Linked DNA regions of Homo sapiens. The protein of the gene in region 1 purifies or fractionates together with the protein of each later gene. This does not show direct contact. Each region holds a gene or a part of one and is shown on either strand. Other genes may lie near its edges. The genes, in order: UBXN4, SLC27A4, VPS13A and VPS13C.

What was found.
Region 2: the proteins of UBXN4 (region 1) and SLC27A4 purify together in Homo sapiens (affinity purification with mass spectrometry; 2 studies listed by BioGRID and IntAct, with this or other methods). This does not show direct contact.
Region 3: the proteins of UBXN4 (region 1) and VPS13A purify together in Homo sapiens (affinity purification with mass spectrometry; 4 studies listed by BioGRID and IntAct, with this or other methods). This does not show direct contact.
Region 4: the proteins of UBXN4 (region 1) and VPS13C purify together in Homo sapiens (affinity purification with mass spectrometry; 4 studies listed by BioGRID and IntAct, with this or other methods). This does not show direct contact.

Annotation. Positions count from the first base shown.
Region 1 is NC_000002.12:135,744,827-135,751,863, forward strand, and holds part of UBXN4 (UBX domain-containing protein 4), read left to right. Parts: intron 1-3,440; coding exon 3,441-3,543; intron 3,544-7,037. UniProt on the Homo sapiens protein: Involved in endoplasmic reticulum-associated protein degradation (ERAD). Acts as a platform to recruit both UBQLN1 and VCP to the ER during ERAD.
Region 2 is NC_000009.12:128,336,550-128,343,553, reverse strand, and holds the start of SLC27A4 (long-chain fatty acid transport protein 4), read right to left. Parts: upstream 3,028-7,004; 5' UTR 2,716-3,027; intron 1,398-2,715; exon of another isoform or gene 1,189-1,397; coding exon of another isoform or gene 1,162-1,188; exon of another isoform or gene 794-1,161; intron 428-793; coding exon of another isoform or gene 422-427; coding exon 261-421; intron 1-260. UniProt on the Homo sapiens protein: Mediates the levels of long-chain fatty acids (LCFA) in the cell by facilitating their transport across cell membranes. Appears to be the principal fatty acid transporter in small intestinal enterocytes.
Region 3 is NC_000009.12:77,418,523-77,422,063, reverse strand, and holds the end of VPS13A (intermembrane lipid transfer protein VPS13A), read right to left. Parts: 3' UTR 527-3,541; downstream 1-526. UniProt on the Homo sapiens protein: Mediates the transfer of lipids between membranes at organelle contact sites. Binds phospholipids. Required for the formation or stabilization of ER-mitochondria contact sites which enable transfer of lipids between the ER and mitochondria.
Region 4 is NC_000015.10:61,917,447-61,924,483, reverse strand, and holds part of VPS13C (intermembrane lipid transfer protein VPS13C), read left to right. Parts: intron 1-1,721; coding exon 1,722-2,087; intron 2,088-2,450; coding exon 2,451-2,537; intron 2,538-3,836; coding exon 3,837-3,986; intron 3,987-4,152; coding exon 4,153-4,417; intron 4,418-5,034; coding exon 5,035-5,195; intron 5,196-5,699; coding exon of another isoform or gene 5,700-5,762; exon of another isoform or gene 5,763-6,120; intron 6,121-6,226; coding exon 6,227-6,348; intron 6,349-6,848; coding exon 6,849-7,037. UniProt on the Homo sapiens protein: Mediates the transfer of lipids between membranes at organelle contact sites. Necessary for proper mitochondrial function and maintenance of mitochondrial transmembrane potential.

The DNA.
Region 1 (7,037 bases):
ATCAGTCATCCCACTCAGTAGTATTAGGAAAGTTGTCATTAAGCATTGAGTAATTCCATTCAGCTTTCCACCACTGCTGTTCAAGCAGCTGCTGCCACCACTAGGCTGAGTCTAGGACAGACACTGCCAGTAGGGTTGAGACATCTGGGACCCTAATCACATGGTACAGTATAGGTGAGGGAGTGATGCACCAGCCTCACAAGAAGCAAGATTTATACTTTCAGCTACTTACGTGATATCACTGTTTAGATCCTCCCAGGATTCTCAAGCCTAAACGTGTAAGTGCTGCCTAAACCTGTGTTTCTCCCAGTGTTCTGCATCTGATTGGCACTACCATACATCTGGTTGGATAAACCATAAATATGAGAGTCATCTTTGACTCTTAACTCTTCAGTCTCTTCTTGAGCTCCGGATTGTTCACAACATTCCAAATCACATAGGCCTTTCCCTACACACGTATTCCTTCTGCGTGGTGAACTCTTCTGGCTGTTGGCATGGCTGAGCTCTCTTATCCTTTAGATTTTAGCTTAACTGTCACCTCAGAGAGGGCTTCTCTGACCATTATAAAGAGTTCTCTTGTTATTTTCTCTCATAGATTTCTTTTTAGTAGCATTTATTACTGTAATTACGTATAGTGTCTATTTGTTTAAAAATTTTGTATACCATTAGATTTTAAGCTCTGTTGAAGGCAGACAATGTCTCATTTGGTTTATATTTAGTATACAGTTCAATGCCTAGAACAAAATAAATGCAATAAAATAGTGAACATATAAAAGAATGAATGGAAAGGATTTCTCATTCTTCACAGCCTTCTCTGAGAAGGGTTCGTAGTAAGAATATTCTCATATACTTATTTTTCTTTGGTAGGTGAGTCATTTATTTGGAATCTTAATCTCTCCTCATCAGATGGTTTCTGAAGATGCATTTAGAGTGATCTCACTTGCAAATAGTAACTTCTCGTTATTTTGCATCTTCAACATCTAGGAGTCTGCTAATGGAGCATTCTTAATGGAGCATTTGGTCTGTGGATGCATTCTAGTCCCGTTTACTTTTTTTTTTTTTTTTTTTTTGAGATGGAGTCTCACTCTGCCGCCAGGCTGGAGTACAGTGGTGCAATCTCGGCTCACTACAACCTCCACTTCCCTGGTTCAAGCGATTCTCCTGCCTCAGCCTCCTGAGTAGCTGGGACTACAGGTGTGTGTCACCACGCACAGCTAATTTTTGTATTTTTAGTAGAGACGGGGTTTCACCGTGTTGGCCGGGATGATCTAGATCTCTTGACCTCGTGATCCGTCCGCCTAAGCCTCACAAAGTGAGCCACCGTGCCCGACCCCGTTTACTTTTCCATGGTCAAATTTCTCAAACTCCTATTTCTGGTATTCCTGAATCTCATCTCACAAAATATATGCAAATAAACAGCATTAGAGTCAATTATTATAGGCATGCCATCATACTTACTATATTAGGCATTTAGCTATTCCACAGAGTACTTATTGGGTGCCTACTATGTTTTGTAGAGATTTTAGTCTTGTCAGTAAATAAAATGGAACCAATCCTTGCCTTCATGGAACCTTCATTCTAGTTAGGGGAGACAGATACTAGTAAACATAATTAAAAATGCATAGTATATTGGAAGGTGAAAGTAATACAGAAAAACAACAGGAGATAAGGGAGCTTTGGGAATGTCTCAAGAGTGTAATTTTAAAGTAAGTGAGTAGGAGAGTTGTAATATTAAAGTGGGTGATTAAGTATCAGCTTTATTGAGCTGATATTTGAGCAAAGTTTTAAGGGAGTTGGAAGTTAACCATGTAGTTATCTGGGGGAAGAACATTCCAGGCAGAGGAAACAACTAGTACAAAGACCTTATGGCTGAAGTGTCTTTCATATTTGAGGAATAGAAGGAAAAAGAATAGCAAGAAAGGAAAAAGGAATGAGGTCACAGAGGTAGTTGGAGTCCTGATGTATGGGGCCTTCAAGCGCCCTGTAAGGACTTTGGCTTTTACTTTGAGGAAAATGGGGAGCCATTGTGTGATCTAAGCAGAGGGTTGATGTGATCTTTTTTTTTTTAGAGAAAGTTGCTGTGTTAAGAATAGACTTAGCAGGAAGACCAATTTGGAGGCTTTTACTAGGCTTCCAGGTGAGATGTGATAGCTTGGATCAGGGTAGTTAGTAGTGGAAGTGGTAAGAAAGTTACATTCTTGATTTATTTTGGAGCTGGAGTCAGTTACAATCAAGGAAAACTAGTTTTTTGGCCTGAGAACTGGAAGGATGGAGTTACCATAAACGAATAACTGCAATGAGGAAGGCCAAAGTGGATTAAATTGTCCTGGCCAACATAGTGAAACCCCATCTCTACTAAAAATACAAAAAAATTAGCTGGGCGTGGTGGCGGGCACCTGTAATTCCAGCTGCTCAGGAGGCTGAGGCAGGAGAATCGCTTGAACCCGGGAGGCAGAGATTGCAATGAGCCAAGATTGCACCATTGCACTACAACCTGAGCGACAAGAGTGAAACTCCATCTCAAAAAAAAAAAAAAAAAAAAAAAAGATACAGAACGTTTTCAGCATTCCAGAAGGCTCCTTCATGCTCTATCAAGGTAGCCACTATACTGAATTCTATCACCATAGATTAGTTATAGGTTAGCATACCTTTTATAATTAGCATACCTACAATAAAAGGCAAGTCTAAAATTGCAAACAGAATTGTACCTGCCTCTGTCTACCTTGGATTAATTTTGGAGTATAAATGCTGTGGAGTGGAGATGTTGAACTCAACAGAAAGGTGCCACATAAAGGACAGATATCAAACTTTTTATTTTTCTCTCTCTCTAGACGGTCTCACTGTGTCACCCAGGCTGGAGTGCAGTGGTGCAATCTCCGCTCACTGCAACTTCCACCTTCCGAGTGCAAGCAATTCTCCTGCCTCAGCCTCCTATGTAGGTGGGATTACAGGCATGCGCCACCACACCTGGCTAAGTAGAGATGGGGTTTTACCGTGTTGGCCAGTCTGGTCTCGAATTCCTGGCCTCAGGTGATCTACCCGCCTCAGCCTCCCAAAGTGCTGAGATTATAGGCGTGAGCCACCGAGCCCAGCCCACAACTTTTATTTTAATAAAATCTTATGTACAAAAGCCCAAATAGGCACTGCACCGATGACTGCTTATTATTGTGGTACTTTGCGCATCATAATTTAGATGGCTTCTTTTATGAAATATTTTGTATCATTTAAATAGTCCAGTGTAGTTTGTTTTCATTGCTCTTCATGATGTGAACTGTGTATGCAGTCACACTTTTCATTTAGTGGAAAATTCAGTTTTCAAATTTGGCAGAAAGTGGTATAGGTGGGATTATATTTTATTTGAGGTTTCCGTTTTCCAGGGGAAAAGAGTTTGCAATCAGCAGATCCCAGCCTGGTATAAGAATTTTTGAAATGTTTTACAGGTGATGATGAACAGTCTACACAGATGGCTGCAAGTTGGGAAGATGATAAAGTTACAGAAGCATCTTCAAACAGTTTTGTTGCTATTAAAATCGATACCAAAAGGTTTGTTTATGTTTTAATATTTTATTAATTTTAAAATTTATAAGTATTGTCTTTGATTTATAGTGATACTCTTGGACTAGAAGAATGTTGATGTTGGGCTGGGCACTCCCAGCACTTTGGGAGACTGAGGTGGGAGGATCGCTTGAGCCCAGGAGTTAGAGGCTAGCCTGGGCAACATAGTGAGACCCTGTCTCTATAAAAAATAATAATAAAATTAGGAGTGTGGTGTGTGCCTTTGGTCCTGCTACTTGGGAGGCTGAGGGGAGGATCACTTGATCCCTGAAGACTGGGGCTACAGTGAGCTGTGATCATGCCACTGCACTCCAGCCTGGGTGACAGAGTCAAACTCTGTCTCAAAAAAAAAAAAAAAAGAATATAGGCCAGGCACAGTGGCTCATGCCTGTAATCCCAGAACTTTGGGAGGCCAAGACAGGCGGATCACTTGAGGTCAGGAGTTTGAGACCAGTCTGGGCAACACAGTGAGACCTTGTCTCTACTAAAAAAAAAAATACAAAAATTAGCCGGGTGTGGTGGCACACGCCTGTAATCCCAGCTACTCGGGGGGCTGAGGTAAGAGGATCACTTGAGCCCAGGAGGTTGAAGTTGAGGCTGCAGTTAGCAGTGACTGCACCACTGCACTATAGCCTGGGCGAGAGAGCAAGACTATCTCAAAAAAAAAAAAAGAATGTTTATGCTATGTTTTTGGGTATCTAAGGCATATTAGGAACTTAAATTCTGACTGCCGTTTGCTAAATTCATCATGAATCCTGCTGAAAAAACTTTAAGCTTTCCTACTCTACCAAGCAGCCATCTAACATGTACCAGGAATGCAAAAAGAACAGTCATCTCCAGCTTCTAAAAACTTGGAAGTAATGGTAAATCATACATTGAATATCTCTGAGAGGTTGATCACTTACTGTCTTGAATCCTATTTTTGGGAATGGAGTCATTTAATCAGTGGAAATAAGGACATTTATAGGTTCCTCAAAGTACCTGATGTCCACAAGTCTATTTTGTTTCTCCGTTCCTCCTCCCCATCTTTTAAAAAAATTTTTGTTATAGGAAGTTTCAAACATATATGAAAGTAATGTAACAGTGTAATGTACCCCATGTACTTGTCTACTAGCTTTGGTAATTAACTCATGGTCAGTCTTGTTTCATCTATACCTCCACCCATTTCCACTCAATCCAAATAATTTTGAAACAAATCACAGTCACTGTATCACTTCATCTATAAATATTTTAGTATGTCTCTGAAGTATAAGTATTGTTAATTTTTTAAGCATAACTATAATATTAATACTTCACAAACTAATAATAATTCTTTAATATCAAATAACCAGCCAGTGTTCGACTTTTCAGTTGTCTCATCAAAGTCATAGTTTTATTACTTTATTGCAGTTTTTTAGTTCAAAATTATTCAAGGGCCACACATTAGGAAGCATTGATTTCTCTCAGTATGTAGGCTTCTCCTCCAACTCCCCTGCTCCTTGGAATTTATATTTTAAAGACACCAGGTCATTTGTTCTATACATTTGTTCTGTGGTTTCCTACAGTATGGATTTTGTTGACTGCAATGTGTTAGTGTCAAGTTGGTTCTTTCCTGTTTTCTGTATTGATAGGTAGATTCAGGTTTGTTTCCCCTCCCCTCATCCTGTCCTAAGACTACTTCATAGGTAGTGATGTGTCTTCCATCAGAAGACAGATAATACCCTGTTTTCTCTCTTTATGATGTTAGCAGCTATCAGTGATCATTACCTAAAAACATTATTATTTATTTTTTTCTTTGAAGCAGGATTTCACTATGTTGCCCAGGCTGGTCTTAAAATATTGGACTGAAGAGATCCTCCCATGTCAGCCTCCCAAATAGCTGTAGTTACAGGCATGCTTCACTGTGCCTGGTGCTGAAAACATTAATTCATTAGCACTTACAAAGTGGTATTCCTGTCTTTTTGATATTGATACTATCAGAATGAATAATGTGTTTGAAAATCACTGTCAAGATTAAAGCATTCAGAAATTTCTACTCGGGAGGCTGAGGCAGGAGAATGCTGTGAACCCGGGAGGCAGAGCTTGCAGTGAGCCGAGATTGCACCACTGCACTCCAGCCTGGGCAACAGAGCAAGACTCCGTCTCAAAAAAAATAAAAATAAAAATAAAAAAATAAATTCAGAAATTTGCCTATAAGTTTGTAAACTTTATGTAAAAATTTTCTGTGTTTACAAAAACATCAAGTCGTAGTATAGCCTGTCTCACAACAGTTACTGAACTATGTATTTACTGAGTAGTTTTTAAAAAACAGAATCTGTCAATTTAAGTATATCTTTTTTTTTTTATTGTTCATCACCTTCCTGAAGCACCTTTGAGAGTTGGCAGTGGCAAGAAGAATATAGGGATTTATAGGGAATGTGCAATACATGAGAATTCCAGAATTCTTGAGATTGTATACAGACTGATGTGTCTGGCTTTTTTTTTTTTTTTTTTTTTTTTTTTTTTTTTTTTTTGAGACGGAGTCTTGCTCTGTCGCCCAGGCTGGAGTGCAGTGGCGTGATCTCGGCTCACTGCAAGCTCCGCCTCCCGGGTTCACGCCATTCTCCTGCCTCAGCCTCCCGAGTAGCTGGGACTGCAGGTGCCCGCCACCATGCCCGGCTAATTTTTTTTTTTTTTTTGTATTTTTAGTAGAGACGGGGTTTCACCATGGTCTCGATCTCCTGACCTCGTGATCCGCCCGCCTCAGCCTCCCAAAGTGCTGGGATTACAGGTATGAGCCACTGTGCCCGGCCGTGTCTGGCATTTTTAAAAATAAATTACTTTTTTTTATTTTTTATTTTTTTTGAGACGGAGTCTCGCTCTGTAGCCCAGGCTGGAGTGCAGTAACGTGATCTTGGCTCACTGCAAGCTCCGCCTCCCGGGCTCACGGCATTCTCCTGCCTCAGCCTCCCAAGTAGCTGGGACTATAGGCGCCCACCACCATGCCTGGCTAATTTTTAAAATAGTTTTAGTAGAGATGGGGTTTCACAGTGTTAGCCAGGATGGTCTCGATCTCCTGACCTCGTGATCCACCTGCCCCGGCCTCCCAAAGTGCTGGGATTACAGGTGTGAGCCATCGTGCCTGGCCTTAAAAACAAATTTCTATTAGCAGATGCAGGGATACCTGCATATAGTGATGGTTCATGTTTGTTTCACTGTAGACTGCATGCTGATAGAATCTAGTGTGCCTTTAAATTATGGAAAATAAATTTTCTTCATTTCATAATAACTAAGTCACCCAATGTTTTGGGATCATTTTAGTGTGTATGTATTTTTGGAGATAGCGTGCATTGAAAATAGATTAGTAGGAAATGCGTAAAAAGTTTACAATTATTTCTGAAATGGTAGGATTTTGGGTAATTTTTTTTCTTGATTTTTTACTATGTTTTTAAATGTTTTTATGATAATAATGCTTTATATTTGAGGGAAAAAAGCAAATTCTAGTTCTTAGAAGCATTTGTTTG
Region 2 (7,004 bases), on another chromosome or scaffold:
TGTACGTCCTAGGCCAAGCCTGCCCAAGGCCTGGGAGCCTCAAGTTAGGGAGATTCCCTGGGAGAAGACTTTGACCTTGGAGATGGAGGGACCAGGTACTATTGCCAGGGTACGGGTGTGGAGCAGAGGCTGCTGTTCTGGAACTCAGCTCAGCTGCCCTGTGCTGGTAGAGAACATGAGGTCTGGCCTGGGGAGATTTGGGGGACCAGAAGCTCACTGTAGTGTGGCAGACCCCAGGAAAGGCTGGGCCAGGTACTCACAAGATATCGCGCCTGATGGTCTTGATGAAGACCCGGATGAAGCGCCAGCCGCCAGATCCCAAGTAGAGGAACAACAGGGAGAATCCCACCTGGGTCCAGGGCAGTTTCAGCACCAGCTTGGAGAACAGCAGCACCCCCACCAGAGAGGCTCCAAGCAGCATTGTGGCCTGCGGACACAGGGCAGTTAGTGGACCCAAACACCCAACCCTCCAGGTCTCCTACCTCCCAGCCCAGACAGCCAGGCCACTGTGATCCCAAGGGGACAGCCTGTGGTAAGGCTTAGCCATACTGAGTTGGGTGACTGACCACAGGGGTCCCTTTCCAGGCTTGGCCTGGAAGGGGCAGGCTAGGGGCTTGGCACTTGAGGTGAGGAATTCCAAGAGTGAGAAGCAGGAGGCTGGTTCTCGTCTCATAGTCCCATCTCTGCCCACCATTCTCCAAGTGACCTTGGGCAAGACCTTTTCACATTTTAGACCTTAGTATCTGCCCTCTGTGCAATGGGTGTAGTGAGACGTGTTCTTTTTTTTTTTAAGTTTTTAAACTTTTTATTTGCATATTAAAAAAACTGTGCATTCCAATAATTAAAATCATTTGAACAAAAAAAAAAATGGCACTCTGATTAAACTGCATTACAGCCTGCAGGACACCTTGGGCCAGCCTGGTTTTACTCTAGATTTCACTGTCGTCCCACCCCACTTCTTCCTTCACCAACAAGCAAGTTCTTTCCTTCCCTGCCAGCCAGATAGACAGATGGGAGAGGCAGGCGCAGCCTTCGTTGTCAGTAGTTCTTTGATGTGAAAGGGGCAGCATAGTCATTTAAACTTGATCCAACCTCTTTGCATCTTACAAAGTTAAACAGCTAAAAGAAGTAAAATAAGAAGGCAATACTTGTGGAATGTACAATGCATATTGGCGGTGCACGCCTCATTACGATTCGCTTGCTTGCTTCTCCTGTTCAATCGTTTCTTTGGAAGGCAGTGGATTTTTCTCTTGCATCTCTGTCTTCTTCAGTTTCGACTTATCGAATTTCTCAATCTCAGCCATATCGGGTTTGTCAGACATGGTTGCGGAGGAAAAGCGGAGCGAGGCATGCGAGAACGAGCGAAGTCTGGTCTGCGCAGTGGCCACCACCGAGTTGTCCTGAGACGTGTTCTAAGAGGCTTTTCTAGCCAAAACATGACAGTTCACTCTTCTGACATCCAGGGTCCCTAAAACCGGATGGCCTGGGGGTGGGTACTGACTTAAGAGCCTCTGGCTCGCTGGCAGTGGTGGCTCACACCTGTAATCCCAGCACTTTGGGAGGCCGAGGCAGGCGGATCATGACGTCAGGAGTTCGAGACCACCCTGACCAAGATGGTGAAACCCTGTCTCTACTAAAAATACAAAAATTAGCCAGGCATGGTGGCACACACCTGTAACCCCAGCTACTCAGGAGGCTGAGGCAGAAGAATTGCTTGAACCCGGGAGGCGGAGGTTCCATTGAGCCGAGATTGTGCCACTGCACTCCAGCCTGGGAGACAGAGCGAGACTCCGTCTCAAAAAAAGAAAAAAAAAGTCTCTGGCTCGACTCCCCACCCAGAACCCAGGGAGGTTCTGTGGATGACCAGGCCAAGTCAAAGGGGCAGCTCCCTGGAAAAGGAGCCCTGCTTGGTCCCTGCCCATAGACTCAGGTATCGCAGTGCGTCTGTTGGTCTATAGAGGGCGACCCAGAAAACGAGTTAGAGCCTGGAAGTGCTTGAAAGGTGACCGCCCAGGGGGCAAAGCTGATTGAGGGAGGCGAGGAGGACCTTGAAGACACCACCACCCATCACACAGACACACACAGCCACTCGGATGAATCTTTGGGGTCTAGGGCTTAGGGGAAGGCGAATGACTTGACTGTGCTTCAGGGGCTGGGTTGAGCTAGGACTCTTGGGTTCTATTCCTGGAGCTTTGAGGACTCGATCAAGGGGACATCTGATGGGACTGTTTTTCTCCGAGTTTTCCTGTTCTTGGGAGTAGATGAAGGTCACAAATGTGAAATGGCCTGAGAGCCTCCAAGCCAGGAAAAGGGAATGGTCTGGACCACAAGAAGCCCTGGGAGACCATCTCCCCCTCCCCCTCGCGAAAAGCAAAAGCCGGGGGCGGGGGAACTGAACCAGAGTCCTCAACCCCAACGCCAGGGTCCAGGGTCCTCAGATCTCTGGCCTCCCATAGCCCGCCATAGCAGAGGGGCAGGAACCTGTCCTGGAAGGCTGGGGCAAGAAGAGGCCAGAAGAGGGTGACTAGTTCCCTCGGGCCCCTGTCCCGGGTCACGCGTGCCGCCCTCGCCCCTAGACAGCAAGGTAACAGTGCGTCTGTCGGGGAAATAGCGCCGCAGGGCGCGCCCCCCACCTGGGGTCCGCACCGCCACCTCGCCCGACTCGGCCTGGCACATGTCCCCACCCGGGAACCCACCAGCCCGGTCTATGCTCACCCGGCGTCGGCTCCGCCGCGCGGCGCCCCGTCCAGATGCGGCCCGGTTGCAGCAGCGTAGACAGCGTGAGGGGCATTAGCCGCCCCTGGACGCACGGAGCCGGGTCTCAGCAGGGTTTAGCCGGCTCTGCGCCCTGCATGGCCCGGCCGCCCCGCCAGCCCCGCCCGCCGCCCGGCCCCGCCCGCCGCGCTCCTACCCCGCCCGCCTCCCGCACCCCAAACCTGCTGTGCCAGGCCGCAGCACCGCCTGCCGCACCTTCCCCGAAGCCGGCAAGCCACAGAGCCGGCGGCGCAGCGCAGCCCCAGCGCGCCTGACGCCGCTCGGCCCCAGCCCGCCCTGCTCGCGCAACGGCTTCGGGCGGCGCCGCCGCGCGGCACGCTGGGAGTTGTAGTCCACGCCGCGCGGCCCCACCCAGCCGAGGAGACCCCCGAGTCCGCGAGGAGACAGGCGGGCTTCACCCCGGCCCTTCCTCCCTGCCGACCCCGGCCCTTGCCCCCTGCTGTCCCCAGCGCCCGGATGTAGGAAGAGCACCCCAGTCCACACCACAGCCGAAAACCCGGAGCACGCTCTCGGGCCCCGGCCGAGTTCAGCAAACACCCAGCACCACACCTAGAAGCTCGCTAAGAGGGCGGTTTCAGGCAGAGGTGAGCGGGGCGGCCGGGTTCCGCAGCCGGCTCTGTGGCGCAATGGATAGCGCATTGGACTTCTAGCTGAGCCTAGTGTGGTCATTCAAAGGTTGTGGGTTCGAGTCCCACCAGAGTCGAATTTTGATGGCTCCTACTCCCTGACTTTCACCTGCGTGTTTTAAGGACTCCAGGACCTATCTAACAAATAAGGTTCAGAACGAAAATCATAAGTCACACCCAACTTTGCTGCGACACAGCCATAAACCTGGTGTCTAGGTGACTACGAGAAATCCTTTCTCGTACCATGGTGTCTTGTGAGCAGCCTGGCACACCTGTTGGCACAAAGGACACGGATTTGGAGGCCCTTAGTTAACTTCACCATCTATGATCTCTGGTCCCTGCAACAAATCAGTTAACCTATATTTGTCATGCCACCCTTATTTGTCATGCCACCTCCAGAGCCATAGGCGAGTGGCCAGATTCTCGGCCCTGTTGGGACTCTTGGCCTCTGAAAAATTGGTTTCTTGTTAAGTAACCATGTTGGGCATCCACAGTTGCCACTTGTCCTTAAACATTAATAGATCCCTGGGAGGCTGAGGCAGGAGAATTGCTTGAACCTGGGAGGCGGAAGTCGCAGTAAGCCGAGGTTGCGCCACTGCACTCCAGCCTGGGCGACAGAGCAAGTCTCCATCTCAAAAAAAAAAAAAAAAAAAAAAAAAAAAAAGATTCTGGGACTGGCGTGGTGGCTCAAGCTTGTAATCCCAGCACTTTTGGAGGCTGAGGCAGGAGGATCACTTCAGCCAGGAGTTCAAGACCAGCCTGGGCAACATAGTGAGACTCTGCCTCTACAGGAAAAAAAAAAAAATTAGCCAGGTAGCTCTTGCTTGTACTCCCAGCTACTCAGGAAGATGAGGTGGGAGGATTGCTTGAGCTCTGGAACTTGGGGCTGCAGTGAGCTGTGATTGCACCACTAAACTCCACCCTGGGCAACAAAGTAAGACCGTGTCTCAAAAAATAAAAATAAGCTGGGCACAGTGGCTCATGCCTGTAATCCCAGCACTTTGGGAGGTTGAGGTGGGCAGATCACATGACGTCAGGAGTTCGAGACCAGTCTGGCCAACAGGGCGAAACCCTGTCTCTATTAAAAATACAAAACTTAGCCGAGCGTGGTGGTGCACGTCTGTAATCCTAGCTACTCAGGAGCTGAGGCAAGAGAATCACTGAACCCGGGAGGCAAAGGTTGCAGTGAGCCGAGATTGGGCCACTGCACTCCAGCCTGAGCAACAGAGCAGTGAGAGCCTGTCTCAGAAAACTAATAATAATAAAAATAAAGATGAAATTTTGGTCTGATAAGGATTTGGACCTATTTCTTCTGGAATATAGGGTGCCTCCTTTTGGGGACTTGAGTAAATTCCAGCACCACATCCTTCATGGGTATCACCATCAGGAGGCAGAATGTGCAGTGGTATGGGCATGAGCATTGAGTTCGCCTTCTCAGCTGAAAGGTCAAGATTCATTTTGTTCTTACATATAAAAAATGGGACATACTAATTAATAATACCTCACAGGGTCAGCGTGGAGATTTGTGGGGAGTATTTTTTTTTTTTTTCCGAGACGGAGTCTTGCTCTGTCGCCCAGGCTGGAGTGCAGTGGCGCGATCTCGGCTCACTGCAAGCTCCGCCTCCCAGGTTCACGCCATTCTCCTGCCTCAGCCTCCCGAGTAGCTGGGACTACAGGCGCCCGCCACCAGGCCCAGCTAATTTTTTTGTATTTTTTTTAGTAGAGACAGGGTTTCACCGTGTCAGCCAGGATGGTCTCGATCTCCTGACCTCGTGATCCACCCGCCTCAGCCTCCCAAAGTGTTGGGATTACAGGCATGAGCCACTGCGCCTGGCACAACATTTCTTGAATGAATGAAAGGGAGAGTGAATTGGAGGCTCTGACCTTATGCACACCAGGATTCGTGAGTATAATCATGAGTACTTCCACATCAACTACTGAGGTCATATGCAAGTGGGCAGGTGAGAGTTAGCGGGAGGATGCTGGTGACCAGCCACCTGCTCTCCTTCAGTCAGGCTCGTCACACTGGAGAAACCAAAGCAGTACCACCGGACATTGGATCAGGCCTGAGGGGGAGAAGCAAGACAACACAGAACAGGACAGCCTGCCTTTCAGTTGCTTACAGTCTAGCTGGCCGCACAGAGGACAGGTGGAAGTGAGATGGAATAGGTCATCCCTCACTCAGTGCTCACTGTGCTGGTGTCACGCTCATCACAGTATTGTCATTAAAATTTTTTAATTTTTTTTTTTTGAGATGGGGTCTCACTCCTGTTGCCCAGACAATCACAGCTGACTGCAGCCTTCACCTCCTGGGCTCAGGTGCTCCTGCTACCTCAGCCTCCTGGGTAGCTAGGGCTACAGGTGTGCGCCACCACACCTGGCTAATTTTTTGTATTTTTAGTAGAGACGAGGTTTCATCATGTTGTTCAGGCTAGTCTGGAACTCTTGAGCTCAAGTCATCTGCCCCCCCAGGCCTCCCAAAGTGCTGGGACTCCAGGCATGAGCCACCCCCCGCCAAGCTCTACCAACAAAATAATTTCAGAGTGGTGAATGCTCTAAAGAAAATAAGGGCATAGTGCAGTGGCTCATATCTGGAATACCAGCACTTTGGGAGGTCAAGGCAGGAAGATGGCTTGAGGCCAGGAGTTCAAGACCAGCCGAGCCAACATAGCAAGACCCTGTCTCTACAAAAGAAAAAAAAAAAAAAAAAGCCGGGCCCGGTGGCCCACACCTGTAATCCCAGCACTTTGGGAGGCTGAGGCGGGGGGATCACAAGATCAGGAGTTTGAGACCAGCCTGACCAACATGGTGAAACCACATCTCTACTAACAATTAAAAAAAAAATCAGCCGGGCGTGGTGGCAGGCACCTGTAATCCCAGCTACTCGGGAGGCTGAGGCAGGAGAATCGCCTGAACCCAGTAGGTGGGAGGTTGCAGTGAGCCGAGATCACGCCATTGCACTCCAGCCTGGGCGACAGAGTGAGACTCCATCCACTCCCCCCGCCAAAAAAAAAAAAAAAAAAAAGAAACCACTTGACTGGGCACGGTGGCTCAGGCATGTAATCCTAGCACTTTGGGATGCCAAAGTGGGCAGATCACCTGAGGTCAGGATTTCGAGACCAGCCTGGTCAACATGGTGAAACCCCGTCTCTACTAAAAATAAAAATTAGCTGGACATGGTGGTGCACCCCTGTAATCCCACCTACTTGGGAGGCTGAGGCAGGAGAATTGCTTGACCCTGGGAAAGGGAGGTTGCAGTAAGCTGAGATCACGCCATTGCACTCCAGCCTGGGTGACAGAGCGAGACTCCATCTCAAAACAAAAAAACAAAAAAAAACAAAACAAACAAAAAAAACTTAGCTAGGCGTGGTGGCATGCATCCATAGGCCCAGCTACTAGGGAAGCTAAAACAAGAGGATCCTGGAGCCCAGGAGGTCGAGGCTGTAGTGAGCCGTCATAGTGGCACTGCACTCCAGCCTGGGTGACAGAATGAGACCCCATCTCAAAAAATAAATAATAATAAACAGAAGATGATAGCATGGAGAGAGGCAGAGGGGGACTAGGGACTGCTTTAGATGGCAGGAAGCCCAGGAAGACATCTCT
Region 3 (3,541 bases), on another chromosome or scaffold:
CTCATTACTTACTGGGGAAATGAGTCATGCGGAGTTTTCTAAGGTTAAGAGACAGAATGTCGGTGGTTAAGAATTCACTAGGTCGAGACAATCCTGGCCAACATGGTGAAACCCCATCTCTACTAAAAAAAAAAAAATACAAAAATTAGCTGGGCGTGGTGGCACACACCTGTAGTCCCAGCGACTCGGGAGGCTGAGGCAGGAAGATCACTTGAACCTGGGAGGTGAACGTTGCAGTGAGCCGAGATCGTGCCACTGCACTGCAGCCTGGTGACAGAGCAATACTGTCTGTCTCAAAAAAAAAAAAAAAAAGAGAATTTACTAGGTACTATACCACCCCAAGCTTTTAGTCAGCAATGATCATGCTGGGCTGGAATGTCGCCTGCTTTGACTGAAAAATCAGGACCTTGGGCAATCTGTTATTCACATTTGTTTCAGCCCCAAAGAGGGTGGAATTTATATAGGCAAGGGAAGGGTATTAATAATGTTTCTAGTTCTATCAAAAAACTAAAAACAGAAGCAGACCAAAGATCAGAAATCTTTATTTGACAAAGGTATACATGGTGAAAATGGGCAGTCATCTTACCATGCAATCCAAATCTACCAATACCAAGAAATGCTTATTGTTAAGAAAAAAAATCATTAGTGAGCATGGCCAACCAATTTTTAGAGAGAGGAATAAAAGAATAAGATTAGTTTCAAAAGGAAGAACTTCACTGTAAATATCTGTGTTTATAAATTATCTTAGAATACACAAAACCAAGGCAGAGGCTGTGTAACAGGCAACTGAGCCAAGCACACATAAAAGAGGGATGAGGAACAGAAAAGTGTAGGAAATCCTGCAGCGATGCAGAAATAGATATTTTTAAAATTATCATAATCAATGACCGTATTTTCATCAAAGAAAGAATAAGCATTCCAAAGCAGCACAGGCTATTTCATCAATTTAAAAAACTAGCAAGAGAAAGTATTTTTAAAGTGCACTTTTCCTGAAAAATTCATTTTTATATGTAATACACAGTCACATACAGAGATAATTATTTCTAAAATTCTGTAACAGTTTATCTGACCTTGTAACAAGTTCCAGATACCATTCCTAATAGTTTGTGTGGATATTAAATCATTGATACTGAAAATATTTCAGTGTAATCTATGCTACATTTTTACTTGAATGTTTTTCAGCCTAAGAACTGGGAACTTTTGAGTAACAAACTGAACACCGGAGGTATGACGGCATAACAGGAAATGTTGGGATTTTCCAACATGTTCTATTTTAATTATACTTCTGATTATTTGATATCTCATTATACCAATCTCACAGGGTTTCTTGTTACAAGGACTTCATTAGAAGGAATACATTATTAACATATCAGAGTAACACTAAATGAATAGTTCAATGACAGACAGGGATTTTCTATCATAGCAGTGTGATATCTATCATCATAGCAGGTGTTAAACTATAATATAAATTAATTTGTATTTGTATAAAGTAATAAAAACTTTAAAAATATACCCATATCAACCTAAAAAATTGAAGTTATATTTCTTGTATAGCTTTTTGGGTAACCAAAATAATTTTTTTTTTGAAAATGCCATAATGCTTTAAAAAAAGAACTAATCTGTAATTCTAAAGTAAAAAATTTTTTAAATGACATGGAAAAATTTACAAAAGAGGAAATATAAAGTAGAAAAAGGTTTCAATAAAAGAAACATGAGTGAGGTTTGTAATAGAGTAGGATTCTGCATCTTCTCAATGTGCTGGCCTTGCTTTTTGGATAGTCCTGAAACAAATACTACTTTAGACCAATTATGACAGTGGGAGAAAAGTTTGCTGTAACAGCCAGAGTGGCCAAAAATTGACAGTACAGATTACAAGAATCAAAATTTTAACCGACAAATCCTAGCTTGATTAGGTTGCCATTAACAATAAGGTATAATTTCAAAAGTATACTTCAAAGGACTAAGGAGGGTGAATGGGTTTCCTTTTAGAGTTGCGCTATACTGAAAAGCACCAAAAAAAATCAGATTGACTAAGTCTGTATTGAGTCCTGCATACAGAATGTAAGTTATTTACATTTTCTACTTGGATCTTAAAGAAATGAGGAAATCCACTGTTTTTAGTAAAAAGTCATTGATATTTGCATAGCACCCCCCAGACACTGAATATTTTGGCCCTACCAGAATGTGCCCTACGTATTAGCTCCCCATTTTTAAAGGCCTTTGCCACCTGTATGGTGAATCAGCCAAAAGGTAGATGGTGCAGATTCAACGGACTCAAAAGGACAATGTATGTCCCCAGTTCTATTATAGTAAAATGCTTAGTGGTAAAGAGGTTAAAATACATCTAGGTAAACAAAAGACTATGGCCTTTTTTGGGTGCTGTGTGTGGATCTAATTTTTCTATGCTTTTTCTGGTCCCACTGAATCATGTGAGGTTGCCCGATACACAGCAGAGAAGAAAAATATTTTAGAAACCAAGAGTGATTCCATCTTCTCACTCAAAAGAAGAAGTGCTAAGCATCTCTAGACTTCCTGAGTTGTGGATCTGCTGCTCCTTATCTAAGGTCAGGCTCCACACAATCCAGACTCTTCCAACAATCACTGGATGGCCGGTGCCTCCTGCAGCAGTCTTTCAAGCTTTCTTTTTTTAAATTGCATTTCATAACAGGAAACACTTTATATTGTGACCCAGTATACACAGTAAATAGAATATTTAGCTGAAACAGTATTTCAGGAACCAATACTTAACCATTTTATATGCTCTATTGTTCCTCTATTTTTTATTATTTCACGTTTAAAATATACTGGTCTTGAGCTGTTAAGTTGATTTCATGACCCACTAATGAGTTAGGACTTACAGTGTGGAAAAACAGCATCCCTGAGGATTTGGGTTGATCCTGACAAAAGGTAACAAGCAATGCCCTGGAAGCCGAAAAGATTCCTCTGAACTGTGTTGGCTGAGCCATGAAAGCATCCACTGTCAATGTATTTGGTACACACTTTGAGCTTCTACAGGCAAACTAATCAAGTATTTTGTCCCAATCTTTTTAATACAGAGGCCTACATGAGGGGGCACTTGGCATAGCCTGAAGGATCAACTAATACTGGCAAGTGATAACTGAATAATTTAGGTGCAGGAAATTCAGCACTGTGTAGAGTCCTTTTAATTTAATCTTTCTTTTTACCAGAGAGTAATACGATGCTACTATGTGGGATGTTTCTAAGAGATGAGCTAGGTGCATAGATATTCAATGGAACAATATTACCGCTATTACTATTGGAAGAAATGAGAGAGATAATTATGATAGAAAATATCACGTAAGTAAGTGTAAGAAAGATTTATTCACTTGGAGGCCACAGGATAGTTGCCTCCAAATGGACTAGGATTGTGGAGGAGAGGGGTAGGTAAGAACTGTCTACAGGTGGTAATGATTGTTTAGGGTCCAGATAACAACAACTCAGCCACACTAAACTGACCTTGGGATTTTTGTGAACACTAAAGGAAAAGCAGCAAATATGTATACTCTAAAAGGGAAGACAC
Region 4 (7,037 bases), on another chromosome or scaffold:
AAATGTCCTTTACAAGGCATTGGGGATATGTAGCCCCTGCTGTCAAAAAACTTAATGACATATGCGGGAGAAAGAAAGAAATCAGTGATTACAGCTTTCAGTGCTAGAGGCATGGCCAAGATGCAGTTGGGAGCACAGGCATGGGGCCTTTAATTCAGACCAGGACATCAGGGAAAGCTGTGTAGAAGCAGGACTATTTGATTTGAGTTTTGAAGGGAGATTAAATAGATGGGGAGCATGGAAAGGTTTATCCAGACAGAACTGATAATATGCACAAAGGCAGAGGTGTGAAAAAATCCTTTAAGATTTAGAGGGGTGGCCGGGCGCGGTGGCCTCACGCCTGTAATCCCAGCACTTTGGGAGGCCGAGGCGGGCGGATCACGAGGTCAGGAGATCGAGACCATCCCGGCTAAAACGGTGAAACCCCGTCTCTACTAAAAAATACAAAAAATTAGCCGGGCGTAGTGGCGGGCGCCTGTAGTCCCAGCTACTTGGGAGGCTGAGGCAGGAGAATGGCGTGAACCCGGGAGGCGGAGCTTGCAGTGAGCCGAGATCCCGCCACTGCACTCCAGCCTGGGCGACAGAGCGAGACTCCGTCTCAAAAAAAAAAAAAAAAAAAAAAGATTTAGAGGGGTGGTCACATATGGCTGGAGAGAATGGTGTGGTGGCGTTGTAAGACTGGAAGCATTAATTATAAGTGACATTAATAAGACACGGAAAAAAAGTTGACAAGTAAGTTAGGAAAACAATACATACTAGATCCTGCTTTTGATGATATAATTATATCCCTTTACATTTTAAGTAAGGATTGTGAGAAGTGAACAATAAAGGAATACAGTTAACTTATTTAACCTAGTATTTCTCAAACTTTGGGAGAATCCTGGCTAGCTGGTTGAATAGGCACTAGGCCACAAAGAGCTCTGCACATTAAGTTAAAGAGAGTTTCAATTTTATCTTGTGGGATAAAAAAATTATGGGAAGTTGATGAAGATTTTAAACATAAGAATGTCATACTCAGATTTGGTTTGTAGAAAAATTATGCTGGTGGCAGTGTGGAGTGTAGGCTGAGAGGGCGTTGGCCGTAGAAGATGTCATCAGTGTAGAACTAAGGCACAGTAATAGGAAGTGAGGGAAGTGAGCAAAGAAAGGCACTGTCCAAAGATAATAAGAGGTAGGATTTATAGATCTTGGGGTAAGTCAAAGGAGAGCTGTGATTTTGAGTCTTCCAGCTTTAATAAGGCAAATGTATATCTTTTTCTTCCTTTTTTTTTTTTTCAGAAGATCTTGTTGCATACCGATATTTATGTGTATCTTGACAAGGATCACACACTTTGGCTTAGTTAATGTAGCTGTTTTTAAAATGAAGAATTTGTTTACATTGCTATACTTGTCTATTCACATAACACTGTTTTGCTCTGAATTGATCAGCTTAACTTTAGATTTTGACTACTGACATATAACATTAGTTATTTAATTCCAGATAACCTGAGTAGAAGTCAGTGTTGCATGATTACTTGGCTTGACACATAATTTTGTGTTCTCTCTTGTTTTTCTTGGTTACGAATTTATTCAAAATTTAAATTAGTTACTTTAATTTAAAATTAAAATTTAATTTAAAAATGTCACTTATAATTAATGTATGTCACTTAAAATCATGTATGTATATATTCTCATCTGGGAAAGAATTTATTATAAATATTTTTCTGCTTTCTTTTTTAAAGATTTCACCCATAATTCTTAATACTGTGTTGACAATCATGGCTGCATTGTCTCCAAAAACAAAAGAAGATGGATCCAAAGATACGTCTAAGGAAATGGAAAATCTTTGGGGTATCAAATCGATTAATGATTATAACACTTGGTTTCTTGGTGTTGACACGGCAACAGAAATAACGGAAAGCTTCAAAGGCATTGAACATTCACTGATAGAGGAAAATTGTGGTGTTGTTGTAGAATCCATTCAAGTTACCTTAGAATGTGGCCTTGGACATCGAACTGTACCTTTATTATTGGCAGAGTCTAAGTTTTCAGGAAATATTAAAAATTGGACTTCTCTAATGGCTGCTGTTGCTGACGTGACACTACAGGTATGGCCACATCACTTAATACCTTCAGAGACTTCTTGAAAGTGCGATTTTGGAATTAAGATATACACTTTTCTTGTTTGTGCATGGCCACTATGAGTACATATGTGAATAGATAGTGTGTTCTGACATTTAATTTGTCGATGTATTGTTTTTTGATAATTATTTTTTAAAGATTGATTTGCTAAATAATTTATGACAATAGAGTAAGAGAGTAAAGGAAAATACACTCTATATATTGTTAGATGGGTTTTGAAAATGGCTAATGATATATAACATTGATTACTTAATAATTTCCCTATTGGTTACAGAAATATGTAATTAAAGCCAAAGGACTGTCTTATAATTTTGTGTGTATCTTTCCAGGTGCACTATTACAATGAGATCCATGCTGTCTGGGAGCCACTGATTGAGAGAGTGGAGGGGAAGAGACAATGGAATTTAAGGCTTGATGTAAGGAAATCTTAAAATATCTTTGGATAGAATGATACTATGCATATTCATTCATAGTTTTTATTTCAGTGATTCTTAAGATGTGGTCTAGGATCCTTGAAGCCCTTTTAAGGGCTCTGTCCATGAGGTCAGAACTCTTTTCATATGTCATTTTCATTCTCATTCTCTCACGAGTGTATAGTGGAGTTTTCCAGAGACTAATGAAGGTGATACTGCAACAGATTGAATGCAGAACAGAAACGAGAATTTATCTGTCTTCCCTTAAGGCAGGCAGTAAAGAGATATATGTGTATGTTCCTCTTCTCACTGTATTTTTAAAATAGTTATTTTTGATTAAAAATGTTATTTATATTAGCATGTAATTTTTATTTTTAAATGAATTTTTAATTTTTTTTCAGTTTTAATTGTTAATAGAGTACATATTGGTAGATAAAACATAAATGAAGCTCTTTAGTATACTCAGTGATTTTTAAGGGTGAGACCAGAATATTTGAGAATTGTTAATGAACTCTTGTGTGTTATCTTTTTATGTTGTTTTTTGAGAACACCTCAGAAACCTAGATACTGAAGCACATTTTTCTTGATTAAAAGGAACTTGAGTCATATATTGTTAAGAAATTGTCGTAGCATACTTCTTTGGGGCAGCCTTACTAAGGAGTCAGGCACTGAAACTGACTCCACATATTCTTTTGTTAAAGATGAGTCACTTAACCTGTGTTCCAATTTCCTCTCAATAAAGAAGTAATATTTTTCTGACCTGCCTTTCTCTGGCATAGGGAGGCTAACAAAGAATGTTTTACAAGGCTTTTGAAATACTACTAGAACAGAAGCTGATGGAATCTGATGGCTAGTTAAGTGTTTATTATATTAATATTACTTATTTGAAGGTGTTATTGGTTTAAAAAATAGAAGGAGAGAAACATTTCCAGGTGGCACCTCTAATAGGGATCAGTTTAGACTTCAGGGTCCTCTTAGATTGCTCGTCAACACATAATCACCAGTTGGGTGACACTGAATAAATAGCTATGCTCTGAGGAATGCATAAGAGACAAATATTGTAGCTGGCTTTGAGTAATTTCATGGCGTAATTCTAAACTTTTCCCCATGCTTGGACTATACCCTGAAAGAATGAATGCTGAACTCCATGAAATCAAAGTGAAGCATGGTATATTTTTGAAAATAAGACTTTTGCGAAGCATTACTATAAAGTGATCAGTTTAGGAGAACTGAACTCCAGCATTTTTATTTTATTATCAACTGGCTAATAATTTAAATTTGCTGTGTTATTTTTCTTCATAGGTAAAGAAGAACCCAGTTCAGGATAAAAGTTTGCTGCCAGGAGATGATTTTATTCCTGAGCCACAAATGGCAATTCATATTTCTTCAGGAAATACAATGAATATAACAATATCCAAAAGTTGTCTTAATGTTTTCAACAATTTAGCAAAAGTATGTCTGAATCTTGCTTAGAATATTTCAAGTGGAATTTTAAAATGAAACATATAATTTTTTTGTCATCAAAATTAGTTTCCAAAAAATGTGTAATTATGGTATAGGTTTTGGGAAGAATGTATGTTTTTCAAAAATTTTACTGTGATGATATGTTCCTTTTCAGGGTTTTTCAGAGGGCACTGCTTCTACTTTTGACTACTCTTTAAAGGACAGAGCTCCTTTTACGGTAAAAAATGCTGTAGGTGTTCCCATTAAGGTGAAGCCCAATTGTAATCTCAGAGTAATGGGCTTCCCTGAGAAAAGTGATATTTTTGATGTTGATGCTGGCCAGAATTTGGAACTGGAGTATGCCAGCATGGTACCTTCAAGTCAAGGGAACCTATCTATATTGAGCCGTCAAGAAAGCTCCTTCTTCACTCTGACCATTGGTAGGCTATATTTGTTTTCCTTAAGGGTATCTTAGCAGTTGTTGGTGTGGGCTTATTTTTGATAAAATGTGAAAAAACATTTTGCTGCAGATATCTGGAGATACAACATTTGAAACATATAATTGCTAACCTCTTGTTTCTTGTTTTCTAAACTTGAGAAAATTAAACTTTATTGATTTAAGAAAACTTTACAAAACTAGATTATTTTTGTGCCCTTAAATAATGTATATATTATATAATATATATAAATATTATATATATAATGTGTTTTTAAAAGGATAGGAGTTTACTGAGGAGAGAAAATAGCTATATTCAGAAGTCTTACAGTGTTGACACTGTGACAAAGAAAAAGATTGTTGCTATATGATTGAGAGAATAAGAAATAAGTTGGATTTTGTTTTTATATTCAAAACCCCAAGCAAAACTGTTTTCAGCCAAAAATTTTATAACAGTAACTGGTCTTCTTTTTAAGTTTATGTCTTAGAAAAGCAATTTGTGGTGATCATTTCTAGTGATGAGGAAAAATACTCTTCATTATTTTGAGGTACTAATGATTGTTATAGAGAAACATTGGCAAATTAATATTTGGAATTCTTTTCACTTATGCACTGCCTTAGTACCTCATGGATATACAGAAGTTGCAAATATCCCTGTGGCCAGACCTGGACGGCGATTGTATAATGTACGGAATCCCAATGCCAGTCATTCTGACTCTGTCTTGGTACAAATTGATGCAACTGAAGGGAATAAAGTAATTACCCTTCGCTCTCCTCTACAGGTAATACTTCAAAGTTAATTGTATCCCTTTCAGTGTACCAAGAAATGGTTAAATCATTTAGCTGAATATAGGAATACAGTAAAACTTCATCAGGTCAATTCTGATTATTCAGAAATAAATAGTAATTATTCAGAAATAAATAGTAACAGAAATGGCTTCTATTTACTGTCCAGCTTGCTCTGATAATATTTATTTTAAATGTCTGTAGTTTTGTTTACTTAAAGCTCATTTTTGTTTTCTGTCTTTTAAGACAAATGCAAAATTAATAAAGCTCTTTTGGTATATTCCTTTAAATATTCAGAACCGAGGATTATTGTAATTGTAGTTAGGAAACATTCCATTCTCTTTGTATGTCACTTGGATTATATTTTTCAAGATATGTATGAAGGCATATTGGAATGATCTATCCCTCTGAAAAACATTTTAGCATCTTAATCTGTGTAAATATTTTTTCTACTTTTAAGGTTTTATCCAACATTTTTCTTTTTCTGTGTATTACTACAGGTTTCAGCATATGGTCAACAAAAGAACATTTTTTTTCCTACCTGTAACATCAGATACAAATGAAAAGGTTTCAAATTTTGGACATTGTTATCTTATAGTTTGTTATTTGCTCCAATGCGTAACAGACTGATGTCAAGAAAAGAATTGTACTATTTTTCTCATGATTTTTTGCTATCCATTTCTGTTTAGTTGTTATACATGATACATTGAGAAAAGATTGTCATGGAGAAAAAATGGCTTAAATCTTCAGAGAATAATACATATTTGAAAGATAATATAGACTAATACTAAACATAAGCTTATAATATATGGAGCATTTGAATATCTCAGTTTTCAACTGACACTTAAACATTAAATTTAATATATATAGCACTTAAATACCCTAAAATTTTTCAATTGCCAATAAAAATATCTTCCAATACTGAGTTTGAAATTTTTTAGATCTAAAAGTATTTGTTTGTGGCTCTCATTTTTTCTTTCGAACTTACATATCTTTTAAAAAACTTGTATTTTTTTTTGTCCAACAGATCAAAAACCATTTCTCCATTGCATTTATCATCTATAAATTTGTTAAGAATGTTAAGCTATTGGAGCGCATTGGGATAGCCAGACCTGAAGAGGAGTTCCATGTTCCTTTAGATTCATATAGGTAGATACTTCTTAAATGTATTAAACTTTAAATGTATTGAGTTGGGGATTTATATTCTGGCAAATAACTTCATATTTTTATTAACTAAAGATCAGTAAAAGCCAGTTTTAAGACATAATTTAGTCTTCCATTGAGAAATACATTTATATTATCATTGAATTTATCAGGTGAAAATTCCTGACTGTATATTTGATGTCAGGATTTTTCTGACTATTTTTATTAGATTGCCTTTGTATTTGAAATGAAAATTTTTTTAAGTTGTCTTGTTTACAGAGTTGTTTTTTGTTTGTTTGTTCTTTTCAGAAAGTCCTCCGTAAGTTAGCTATGTGATTTTGGGTGAATTTCCTAACCTTTTTTTTAGCCCTGGTTTCCTCATCTGTATATCTGTAAAAACAGGAATAATAGCACCTATCTTGTAGAGTTGTCAGGAAGATTTAATGAGATGCTTTTTTTTAAGTTGTGGATCAAAACTTTATTGTCACTGTTTCCTCTTTCTGCAGATGTCAATTGTTTATCCAGCCAGCTGGAATCTTAGAGCATCAGTACAAAGAATCTACCACTTATATTTCCTGGAAGGAAGAACTTCATAGGAGCAGGGAAGTCAGATGCATGTTGCAGTGTCCATCAGTAGAAGTCAGCTTCTTACCTCTCATAGTGAATACAGTTGCTCTGCCTGATGAATTGAGCTA